Regions from separate parts of the Homo sapiens genome. Here region 1 is linked to region 2. Evidence: fine-mapped expression QTL. A gene starts in region 2. The other region holds a variant in brackets. All regions are shown on one strand. Distances are from middle to middle.

What was found.
Region 1: its variant is fine-mapped to the expression of RPP25L in whole blood (TOPMed, PIP 0.94).

The regions. Positions count from the first base shown.
Region 1 is chr9:34,516,253-34,521,619 of GRCh38, forward strand. It overlaps DNAI1 (dynein axonemal intermediate chain 1), which reads left to right. Exons shown (of 20, transcript NM_012144.4): 19 at 1,033-1,215; 20 at 4,406-4,732. The coding sequence ends at 4,504. It overlaps ENHO (energy homeostasis associated), which reads right to left. Exons shown (of 2, transcript NM_198573.3): 2 at 4,791-5,367. The coding sequence ends at 5,213. Among named protein-coding and RNA genes, the nearest start is that of ENHO, 4.1 kb to the right of the region's middle. The variant C/T (reference allele first, on the strand shown) is at 2,298.
Region 2 is chr9:34,609,149-34,614,513 of GRCh38, forward strand. RPP25L (ribonuclease P/MRP subunit p25 like) reads right to left here and starts at 2,949. Exons shown (of 2, transcript NM_148178.3): 1 at 2,916-2,949; 2 at 1,347-2,184. The coding sequence starts at 2,148. The coding sequence ends at 1,657. DCTN3 (dynactin subunit 3) reads right to left here. Exons shown (of 7, transcript NM_007234.5): 6 at 4,894-4,953; 7 at 4,398-4,723. The coding sequence ends at 4,634. RefSeq lists enhancers at 1,867-2,420, 3,524-3,573, 3,701-3,750 and a silencer at 2,884-3,123.

The DNA of each region.
Region 1 (5,367 bases), 93 kb before region 2:
GAGAGTGGGGAGGTGGGCTAGAGTGTGGGATCTGGATTTTATTTATAGTGCCAAGGGAGACTGTGGGAGGATTTTAAGTGCTTTAAAGGTAAGCCTACTGCCATATGGAGGATGGATTGTAACAAGGCAAGAGTGGAAGCGGGGAGACCAGTTAAGAGGCTGCCACAGTTGTCCAGGTGAGAGTTGGTAGTGGTTTGGTCTGAGGGTGTGGTGAAGGTAGCATCCAACATGGAATGAGCACTGGTATGTCAAGCACTGTCCTTGCACTTTACATATATTAACTGGTGTAAGCCCTGGCTCTGCCACTTACTAGCAGGTTAGCCTCTAAGAGCCTCTAACTCCTCCGTTATAAAATAAAGATAATGACAGAACCACCTTACAGAGTGGTTGTGAAGAGCATAATGAGGTGATGCAACCGTATGATGTGCTTGCCCAGAGTCTAGTACATAGTGAGTGCTCAACAAATGGTAGCTGCTATTTTCTTTTCTTTTCTTTTTTTTTTTTTTTGAGACAAGATCTCACTCTTGCCCAGGCTGGAGTACAGTGGCTCCATCTTGGCTCACTGTAACCTCCGCCTCCCAGGTTCAAGTGATTCTCCCATCTCAGCCTCCCTAGTAGCTGGGACTACAGGCATGCACCACCACGCCCATCTAATTTTTTGTATTTTTGGTAGAGACAGGGTTTCACCATGTTGGCCAGCCTGGTCTCAAACTCCTGACCTCAAGTGATTCACCCACCTTGGCCTCCCAAAGTGCTGGGATTACAGGCGTCAGTGAGCCACCACGCCCAGCCTATAGCTGCTATTATTAATTCTCCATAGATTTAAAATTTCTCCTAAACTTTTTAATTCTCACTCTTTCAACCATAGGAAAAACACAGAGACACAAAATTCCCCCTCCCTCCACCTCCAGCTCCAGTGTGCTAGCCATTAGCCTTCTACAGTCTTTCCCCAGGAAGTCCAGGGACTCATTCCTCTGAGGTGGAAGACAGGCCTCATTACCCCTGAGTGTGCTGACACCGACCTCTCCACAGGCCCACATATTTGACTTAGCCATCAACAAGTATGAGGCCATCTGCAACCAGCCTGTGGCGGCCAAAAAGAACAGGCTCACCCACGTGCAGTTCAATCTCATCCACCCCATCATCATTGTGGGCGATGACCGTGGGCACATCATCAGCCTCAAGCTCTCACCCAATTTGCGCAAGATGCCAAAGGTACAGGCTCTGGGACTTTGAGCTGCTGCAAGACGTAAAGTCTCCAGGAGGGTGGGGATGACAGAAGGGAGAAGCCAGGGTGACCACCCAGTTTCTGATGTGGGAGACCCAGGGTAAGGATGGTGTCATTGCCTGAATGAGGCTCACAGTAGAAGCAGGTTTGTGAGAAAACAGCAGTTTGACATGCTGCATTTGAGTTACCTGTGGGGCCCCAGGTGACTTTCCCAGGTGGAGACATCCAATGAGCAGGTGGATCTGAAGCCTGCAGAGGCAAATGTGGAGGTATCATTGATTTCTTCCCAGTGGAAATGCTGTGGGTAGGACAGGTCACCCAGGCAGGGGGCCTGGGGCTGAGCCACTGCCTCATTGACTGGGCTTTCACAGGGCTTCAGCCCCAGTGGTCCCTGAGCTGGGAGCTGTGGGTCTACACAGAGAGGAAGGAAATGAGCCGCAAGGAGAGTAACTAGGTCAGCAGCTATGCAGCCCTCCTTCTGAGCTCTGGTTCCTGTTTCTAGGGTCTCCAATGATCAGGAGACCCTGCCCAGAGGCCAAGGGCCCCAAATACAGGTCTGGAGCCCAGAGCGATGACCTTAAAGTCTAGATCTGAGTCCAGATCCAGACTTATGAACCCAGGCTTTGCAGCCCGGGCCTTGGAATCCTGAGCCCAAGAACCCAGAGCCCAGTCCTGCCCATTTGTGTGCTAAGAGTAGAGATGGCTCTTTGCTTTCTGCCAGGTTCTGGGCCAGGATCAGGACTGGGCCAGCTTGCCCTAATGACCATCCCTCCTGGCAATTTGAGGCATTTACTGCAGTTTGAGGCAGTGGCAGGGGCCTGTGTCTTTCGACTACTGTCTTCCCTGCACTGTGCTCCTACCAAGGAAGGGACTGCGGCACCATCCCTCTGGTGCTGGCTTGGCCTGTTCCCCACCATGGCCAGGGAGGCAAGGGCTGGGAGTGTGGCTGGCCCTGTAATTGTAGCCAGCTGGGGGAGAGGGTGGACTTGGCTATAAATACTCAAAAGGCTGCTAAGCGCCTGCAGCTGTGGCCCAGAGGCTGTGGTGGGCTTGAGGGGAGGGAGGGAGT[C/T]GGGCGTGGTCTGAATCTCTTTGCTGAGCCCAGCTAGTTGGCCTCAAGGAGGAGGAAGGAGGAAGCATAATTTGTGGAATAGATAAAATGTGTTCTTAATTTTCTGAGGAGAGAGACCCAGGTTGAAGCTGGCAGAGTTGGACAACCCTCCAGGAGGGATGATGGTCATTCTTTGGGGGAGGAGTACAGCCATGACACCATGAGGGTGGTAGACATGGGTGGGAGCCTGCCCTGCCCACTCTGATCCAGGGAGGTAAGCATCTCCCATAGTTTCAGTTCCCCTCAGAGAAGGGTCAGACATGGGTGGGAGCCTGCCCTGCCCACTCTGATCCAGGGAGGTAAGCATCTCCCATAGTTTCAGTTCCCCTCAGAGAAGGGTCAGACATGGGTGGGAGCCTGCCCTGCCCACTCTGATCCAGGGAGGTAAGCATCTCCCATAGTTTCAGTTCCCCTCAGAGAAGGGTCAGTCATGGCTGGGAGAGCTGGGCTGTGTGTATCTGGGGACCTACGTCTCTGAGGACCTGAGAAGGGACAGGTGGGGGCTGGTGGGTACTTGAGTGGATTAGAGGTTCCCGTGAAATTGCCATCTGACCCTATCAGCCAAGTGATTCATGCAAAACAAAATCCTCTGGGCATCCCTACTGCCCTTCCTCTGTGAGCTGCAGACTCCCTGCCCTTTCCAAATGGCTTCCCCACAGAGGTCTGGACCTCCCTGCCCAGGGAGCTCCCATGATGGGTGTCAAGAGCCCAAAGAGTCCAAGGCCAAAGACTGTCTTTCCCTAACTACAGGATAGATGGGAAACTGAAGCTCAGAAAGGCAAAGGCCTTGCCCAAAGTCATATAGGGAGTTAATGACAGAGCTGGAACTAAAACCAGGTCCCCTAACTCCCAGGGGATGGGGTGAAGCCAAGAAGAGAACCCAAGCTTAATTTAGGAAGGAGAGAGGGAAGAGAGAGAAAAAGAGCTTTTTTGTGCTCTGCCTGCAGAGGGTAGAGGTGAGCTAGGTAGTGGCAAAAAGGCACTGGGCTGCAAGCGGATAGGGGAGAAAATTTGGGAGCAGGTATGGGGTCACAGCAGGGGGAAATCTGAGCTCCACATGGTGACAGCAGCCAAAAAGGAGCCAGGGAAGGGCCTACTGGCCCTGCACTCACCCCTCCCCATCCCCTTTACAGCCCTGGCCAGACCAAGGTAAGGCTGGGGTAGGTGTCAGTGAGCAGTGGGCACAGGTGGCTGAGAGGATGGGGGCCCAGGAGCACAGCGAAGGCAGGAAATGGGGAAATGGCAACTGCCCAGCCTGCCCCAGCACAGCCCTCACCCCCCTGCCTGGACAGCAGGGAGGGTGGGACTGGTGCTGGTCTGCCAAGGAGTTCTCAGGACCTGTGGGTGACACACACTCCAGTGTCCAACTTATAATGGAAGGATTGGAGTGCTTTGCAGGTAGGGTGTTGGGTCATAAACTCAGGATCTGGTCTTCTAAAGGACAACCTCAGCCAACGACACCTGGAGTCACATGGACTATTCCCTCTGCCCTTATGGGTCTCTTGACACTCTTCCCAACCCTGGGTATGTCTGACACAGCAGGTCTCGCCCCAAATAGCACCCACTGCCAACCTGACCTGAAGGCATCAGGTGAGAGGACTAGGTGAGGTCCGGGCCCCTGAGGCTCTGTCCACAGCCCCTCCCTCCCCAAACACATACCCATTAGCTCCTTGATAGGTCTCGGCCAGGGACCTTCCCATGGTAAGGATGGTGCCAGCAGTCAGCCCCCCGCCTTCGCAGAGCTGGATTTCCCTGGCCTGGAAGGTTGTTCCCCTGAGGGTCAGGGAATGGATGCCTTTTCCCACTCCCACAAGCATCAAGACCCCATGTCCATCTGAGGTTCAAGCCAGAGCTGGACTCCTTTTTGCAAGCTGTCAGCTGAGCCCCTGTGTCACCTAACCCGAGTTGGGGAATGATCGTGTCAGGGAGAGGGGAGGCAGGGATCCAGAATTTACTGGGCAGGGGAGGGGTAGGGCACAGCTGGACAGGCTGGGCAGAGGAGGTGGTGCTGGGACCCAGAGAGGGGGGGCCCACCATTCCTCCCTCATGTATACTTTCCCTCTCCCCAGGAAAAGAAGGGGCAGGAGGTGCAGAAGGGTCCAGCTGTGGAGATTGCGAAACTGGACAAACTGCTGAACCTGGTGAGGGAAGTGAAAATCAAGACCTGAGGGGCTGGCCTCAGTCTCTGTCCCATCGCTTGAATACAGTACTCCTAGGGCTTGACCCTGGTACCCAGCCCAGCCTTAGCACCCAGCATGTGACCCCACTCCTGATCAGGTCCCAGCATCTTCCCTTCTTGTTCTGTTCCTTAAGGTCCCAGCACCTTACCCCAGGACTTGGTCTTCAACCACCATTACCCCTCTAACTTTGCACAAATAAACCTGTGTAGAAACCCACCCCACACCTTTAATTGTGCTACCACAGGGCCCTCAGGAAGAGAAGAAAACCTCAGGGTAGAGCCATAGTTCCATTTATTATCCAGCAAACACTGGGAGGACCAGGGGAGGGGCCCAGCCTGGACACCCTCCTATTATTGCCATGGGTTCCAGTTTGCTTCCCCAGCCTAGAGGGCCTAGAGGTGCTCAGCCTAGGGAAAGAGTGGACCCGGCCCCTGACCCTTGGCCCTTGGGATGGAGCATAGTCCAGATGGCCCTGGCTCTAGCACCAACTCATAAGCCCCCACCCCAGGCCCATCTCCTTAGGGCCACTGAGCTCCTATTGGAGCCAAGCTGGCTAGACTCTGGGCCGCTGGGTCCAGCTCCAAGCAGGCGGACTCTTGAGTTCTGGACCCCAGGCTGGCTGAACTCTGGGATCCTAATTCCAGGCTCTAGGTGAGGTGGACTTAGGTCCTGGGCTCCAGGCTAGGCCAGGGGCCTTCAGGGCTGCAGCAGGTAGCTGCCTTCATGGCTGGGCTTCTGGGGTGGTGGGGCCTTCTCAGGACAGGGGCCAGGGCTGGAGTTGGGACTGGATTCAGAGAGAGAGTCAACGTCGGCAGAGCGAGAATGGCAGGCCCAGCAGAGGATGACCCAGA
Region 2 (5,365 bases):
AAGTGCTGGGATTACAGGCTTGAGCCACCGCGCCTGGCCTGTTTTGTCTTTTTGAGACAGAGTCTTGCTCTGTCACCCAGGCTGGAGTGCAGTGGTGCAATCCCAGCTCACTGCAACCTCTTCCTCCTGGGTTCAAGCTATTCTCCTGCCTCAGCCTCCCAAGTAACTGGGATTCCAGGCATGCACCACCACGCCCAGCTAATTTCTTGTATTTTTAGTAGAGATGGGGCTTCACCAAGTTGACCAGGCTGGTCTTGACCTCAAGTGATCCACTCGTCTTGGCCTCCCAAAGTGCTGGGACTACAGGTGTGAGCCACTGCGCCCAGCCTGTTTTCTGTTTTTGAGACAGGGTCTCACTCTGTCATCCAGGCCGAAGTACAGTAGCACAATCATGGCTCACTGCAGCCTCAACCTCCCGGGCTCAAGCGATCCTCTTGCCTCAGCCTCCCAAGTAGCTGGGACTAAAGGTGCACACCACTATGCCTAGCTAATTTTTAGATGTTTTTGTAGAGACAGGGTCTCCCTACTATGTTGCCCAGGCTGGTCTCCAACTCCTGGGATCAAGCAATCCTCCTGCCTCAGCCTCCCAAAGTGCTGGGATTACAGGCATCAGCCACTGTGCCCAACCCAAAGATATGATTCTAAGACAGGAAAAAGCATGTTTGCAAACTAGTGGAGTTGAGGATAAATGTGTATACAGACAGGTCTGGAGGTGAAGATGGAACATGAGGGAGTTCGAAAGGCCTCTGTCTCTTCAAAGCAGAGTCCAGCTCCATAGCTGAGATTGGGGCAAGGAAGCTGGAGGGAAGGAGGTGTGAGACAGTTGTTGCATTTGGGATAGGTAAGTCATTAATAACGATAATAGCAATTAACACTTAATAGCACTATGTGCCAGTGTGGTATCTAAATGTCATATATGTATATTTCCTTATGTAATCTCATAACAATCCTATGTGATAAACACTATCGTATTCCTGTTTTATGGATAAGACCACTAAGGCACAGAGCAGTAACTTGCTAATAAGTGGCAGACCAGGATTGAAACCCAGGCAGGTTGGTACCAGAGTCCATGCTCACAACCACTATACTATACTGTATGCTGCAGATGGAGAGAAATGTCTGACCTGGCAGTGTTCCTAAACCAGGCCAAAGCAGGGGCAAATAACTATCCAGGGAATTAGATATATTCAGTACTGACTGAGGCTTCTTGTAGACACTATATTCTCCCAGCACCGGCCTGAGCCTACTACTCTTCCTCTGTCTTCACCCGATCAGCCCCCCGGGGTAAGGGCGGGGACTCCCATTTCTTTAATCCCACTCCACATAGCAGGCTGAGTAGAGGCTCATCAAATAGGTAGAAACTTTATTTCCTAAATCCCTCCCTGGACCTCTTTCAGAAGGCAGTTCAAATGCACTGTAGGTAGAAGGCAGAGGAAGCCCTTATTTAGCAATGCAGAACTTGGCAGAGGCCCCACATCTGTCATTCTTCACAGCAGTCCCTTCCCACATGCTAGAGGGAAGGGGAAGCATGATAGGGAGGTCCACTTTTGTGGACTCAAACCTTGATGGGGATGTTGAGCAGTCACAACGCTTCTCAGAAAAGGCACAAGCACCCCAGACATTCAGGCCCGGAGAACAGGCTGGCTCAGCAGGTCTTCACGATCGGGTGTCTCGAGCCCTTCTTCGGGAACGAGGGCCACAGCTGGAGCTGGGCATGGAACCCAGGCCAGGGGGTGCTCCTGGGGGTTGGTAACCACACTCATTGGGGTCCAGGGGGTCCCGGCTGAGCAGCACCCACACTGCAGGCACATGGCGGCGCACTGTGAGGGGGTCTAGCCCTGTGTCAGGTGAGGCTGGGACCCAGCTGTCCTCAGTCTGAAGGAAACGTAGCTTGGTGAGCTGGTGCAGGCCTGGGACCCGCCGCTTGACAATCTCAGCGCAGCTGACAGCCTTTCCTGCAGCCCTGCCAGAACCTGAGAACACTACATGCCGAGCACTGCCGCCCTCCAACCGACCCAGAGCCAACCCCAGCAGGTTGCGAATTTTGCTGCCATCTCGGACCCGCATCTCAAGGGTATCAGGAGGTAGCTGGGGCATTGGGGAAGGCGCTGGGAGCTCTACAGAGCCAGCTTTCCGGTAGTGCTCCATCCTGCTTGCTGTCTTGTCTGTGACTCTCGCTGCCCACTGCAGGGAAGCATCAGGTAAGTGCTAAGCAATGTGCCCCAAGTCACTGTCCACCATCCCCTATCTCCATCCAGGATATGGCCCTGCTCCCCGTTCCAGACTTCCCAGAAACAGGATCATGTCCCCTTGTCCTTAGCATCTCGTGACAAGGTCCATGCCTGCCGCAGTCTGGGAAAGGGCTGTACCCCATACACCCCGTTCCTCTACAAGGGCCATAACACCCCCACCTCCAATCCTGGAGTCCAAGAGGCAGGATCACATTCCCCAAACACTGAGCTCTTTGGGAAAGTGCCAGGCCCCCTCATCCTAAACTCTCCAGGACTGGGGCTTAGCCCCCCTTATCCTGGGCTCCTTGGAACAGGGCCTGGAACCCTCACCCCAGACTAATACCAATAGAGAGCGCTCCTCACTTGGGGCTCTACAAGGACAGGGACAAGGCCCTTCGCCCCAGGCCCCCCGGGAAACAGCCAAGAACCCTTATCCAGTGCTGCCCCCAAACAGAACGGATCCCCTCTCCCAGAGATTACCAAGGTCAATCTATATCAACCCAGGTCACTCAGAAACTCGGGGGCAGAGGCTCGACTCGGAGGGCTGCTCAGGACATTCCAAGACAGCCTTGGCCGTTTCCATAGCCACGGTCTCTTCCAGGGTCTTGCCGGCCGCTGCAGCCAAGCCACAGGCGTCCCCCAACCCTACGAGCGCCCCTCTGCCCGCCCGGTTCCGGCTCTCACCGAAGCCGCCTCACGCACGATCCGGAGCCAAGATGGCGCGCGGGCCCGGAGCGCACTAAGGCCGCGGGGCCGCGCACGCCCCGAGGGGGCGGGGCGTGAGGGGCGGGGCGTGAGGGACGGGCCCCGAGGCATCTCCGCCGCGGAAACAACCCGCTGGCCAGAGCGCCCCGGACCAGTCCCAGCGGGGATGGGAACACGAGCGCAGCCTCCGCTGTTACGCCCCGGAGGGAGGCAGGACAGTTCCCTGCGGTAGAAAGGAGCGGCCGTCGGGGAAGTCCTGCGTCTGAAGGAGGGGGATCTGGCCCTTAGAAGATGGGAGGGCTGGCGTTAGCTGTTGAGCAAACGGGGAGCTGTGGGTTTCACCGTGGGTGCGAACAAAGGCTTCAGTTTGTAGTGGCTGCTGTTGCATGGGCGAGAGCCTTAGTTACCGACTTCTGAGCTTCGACCTCATCCTGTGGGCGCTGGCGGACCACGGGGGTTTTCCGGGTTTTCCAGGGGCCAGTCGAACCAGATCTTGTGCAGGGAGCCGAGGAGGGAGTGGTGGGGAAATCGGGCCACAGCCCCTGACGACACCTGCCGCGGAGTCTGGGGGCTGAGGGGGCGGGGGTGCCCACGGAGCCTAGTATGGTGCCTGGCGTATGACCGGCGCTCAATATTTGTTAAATGATTTGTTACATTAATGAACCAGAGAAATCGCGGTGGGAATGGAAAAAAGATTAAGTTGGGAGATACTAGTAGGTTCAGTGACGAGTTGGCCACTGTTTGGACGGAGAAGTAGGAAATTCCGATCTAGGGTGACTCCCAGGTTTCAGATCGGTTTGGACACGCTGAATTTGAGGTGCCGGAGAGGTCGCAAAGGCGGGGCGGCCAATGGGCCGTTGGAAAAAGGGTCTGGAGCCAGAGCACTCCCTGAGACCACAAGGGGGCAGCAAACATTTGGTGGACTACGGTGCCAATCTGTTTCTCAACATGCTTGCCCCAGCGCCCCTACTTCCCAACTTCCCCTCCCCAGGACCAAAACTTCCTGCATCCAAACCTCTTAGGCTGCCCTTCTCGGCTCGTGGCAGCAGGTAGGCTCCCAAGAGAGAAATTTAAAGGCCTTTGCACATGCTGCTCCCTTGGCTCTGAAAGTCCCTGGATATCACTTACCAGGTCCCTTCAGTCCCTTTTTTCTTCTGTGTCCACCTGATAGGACTGCCCTTTTCCTTTACTGTCTATCCTGCTAGCCCGTGCAGGGCAGGGATTAGCCCTATCTACTCCCATCATCTGACATTTGGAGGTCTCTTATTGGTAAATGTGGGATAAATGGATACATAAAGGAATATCCTATTCACATAATCAAATGAGAGCCTTCATTTTGAGAGCTCTACACCTGCCAGAAAGCCAGACCAGGATGAGTTTAGTTCCCAGTCAAACGATTAGGCAGGCTGACACCTCTGCCCCCTACCACCTCCATCCTAGACCAAGAAGCCAGCACACTCCTCCAGTCATCTCTATGGTTTATTGTCACTGAAATAAGAACACTGATTGGGGGGAGGGTGGGTGTTGCAAATTGCAAACCTCAGGTAACCTGACCTCCAACTTTAGAGCCCAGAGTACAGAGAGGTGGGCCTTGAAGCCAATAAATACAAAGCTTCCTCTGCCTTGTAACAAAGGCAGGTTGGCATAGGGCCCTGGAGCCTGACTGCCCAGGCCCACTTTGGGATGGGGAGCAGCTATCACTCCTCTGCTGGCTTCACTTGCGTGGCGGCCTCTAGCTGGCAAAGTAGCTCATCCCACTGCACGAATTGCTTGGAGAGAAGCATTGTCTGGTTGTAGGTCAAGGTGAGAATAGGAATCTGAGTGAGGAAGTTCATGGAAAGTGGGGAACAGGCAAACATAGGTGGGTAGGATAGGATGAGAGAGAGCTAGAGGTGGAACAAAAGGACAGGGCTTAGGGACAGCACCCATTAGGGTCCTAGTTGAGCAGAAAGGATACAGTCTTGTTGTATTCCTCCAGGAGAGCCTTGGACTCCTCAGTGATTTCCACACACTGGTCCTGTAGGGCCAAAGTGTAGCACAGAAAGGAACTGGGCAAAGCCCACATCTTCCACTAAACTTCCTGCCTCATCACGGACTCCCACTCCCCATGGAGCCTAAAAAAGATGACGCTTAACCCCAAAGCCAAAGGAGCAAATGGCTATGGGAGCACTTTCAGGCTCCAGGATGGGTGCCCTAACAGCAGTCCAAAGACGGATGGAAAAGGGAGTGGCCATACATTAAGTAAACATTCCCCCTAGTGTATGTCTCTTCTTCTGTCCTTATTTCTGAACTCTCTTTGAACTTTACACTAGGGCCTGGGAATAGTGAAAAAAGAGCCCCTCTACCCACAGTCAATGACATACCATCCCCAGGAATTCTTGGGTACCTCCCAGCCTCAACCTTATGGTGTCCCAATAAAGTCCTGCTCT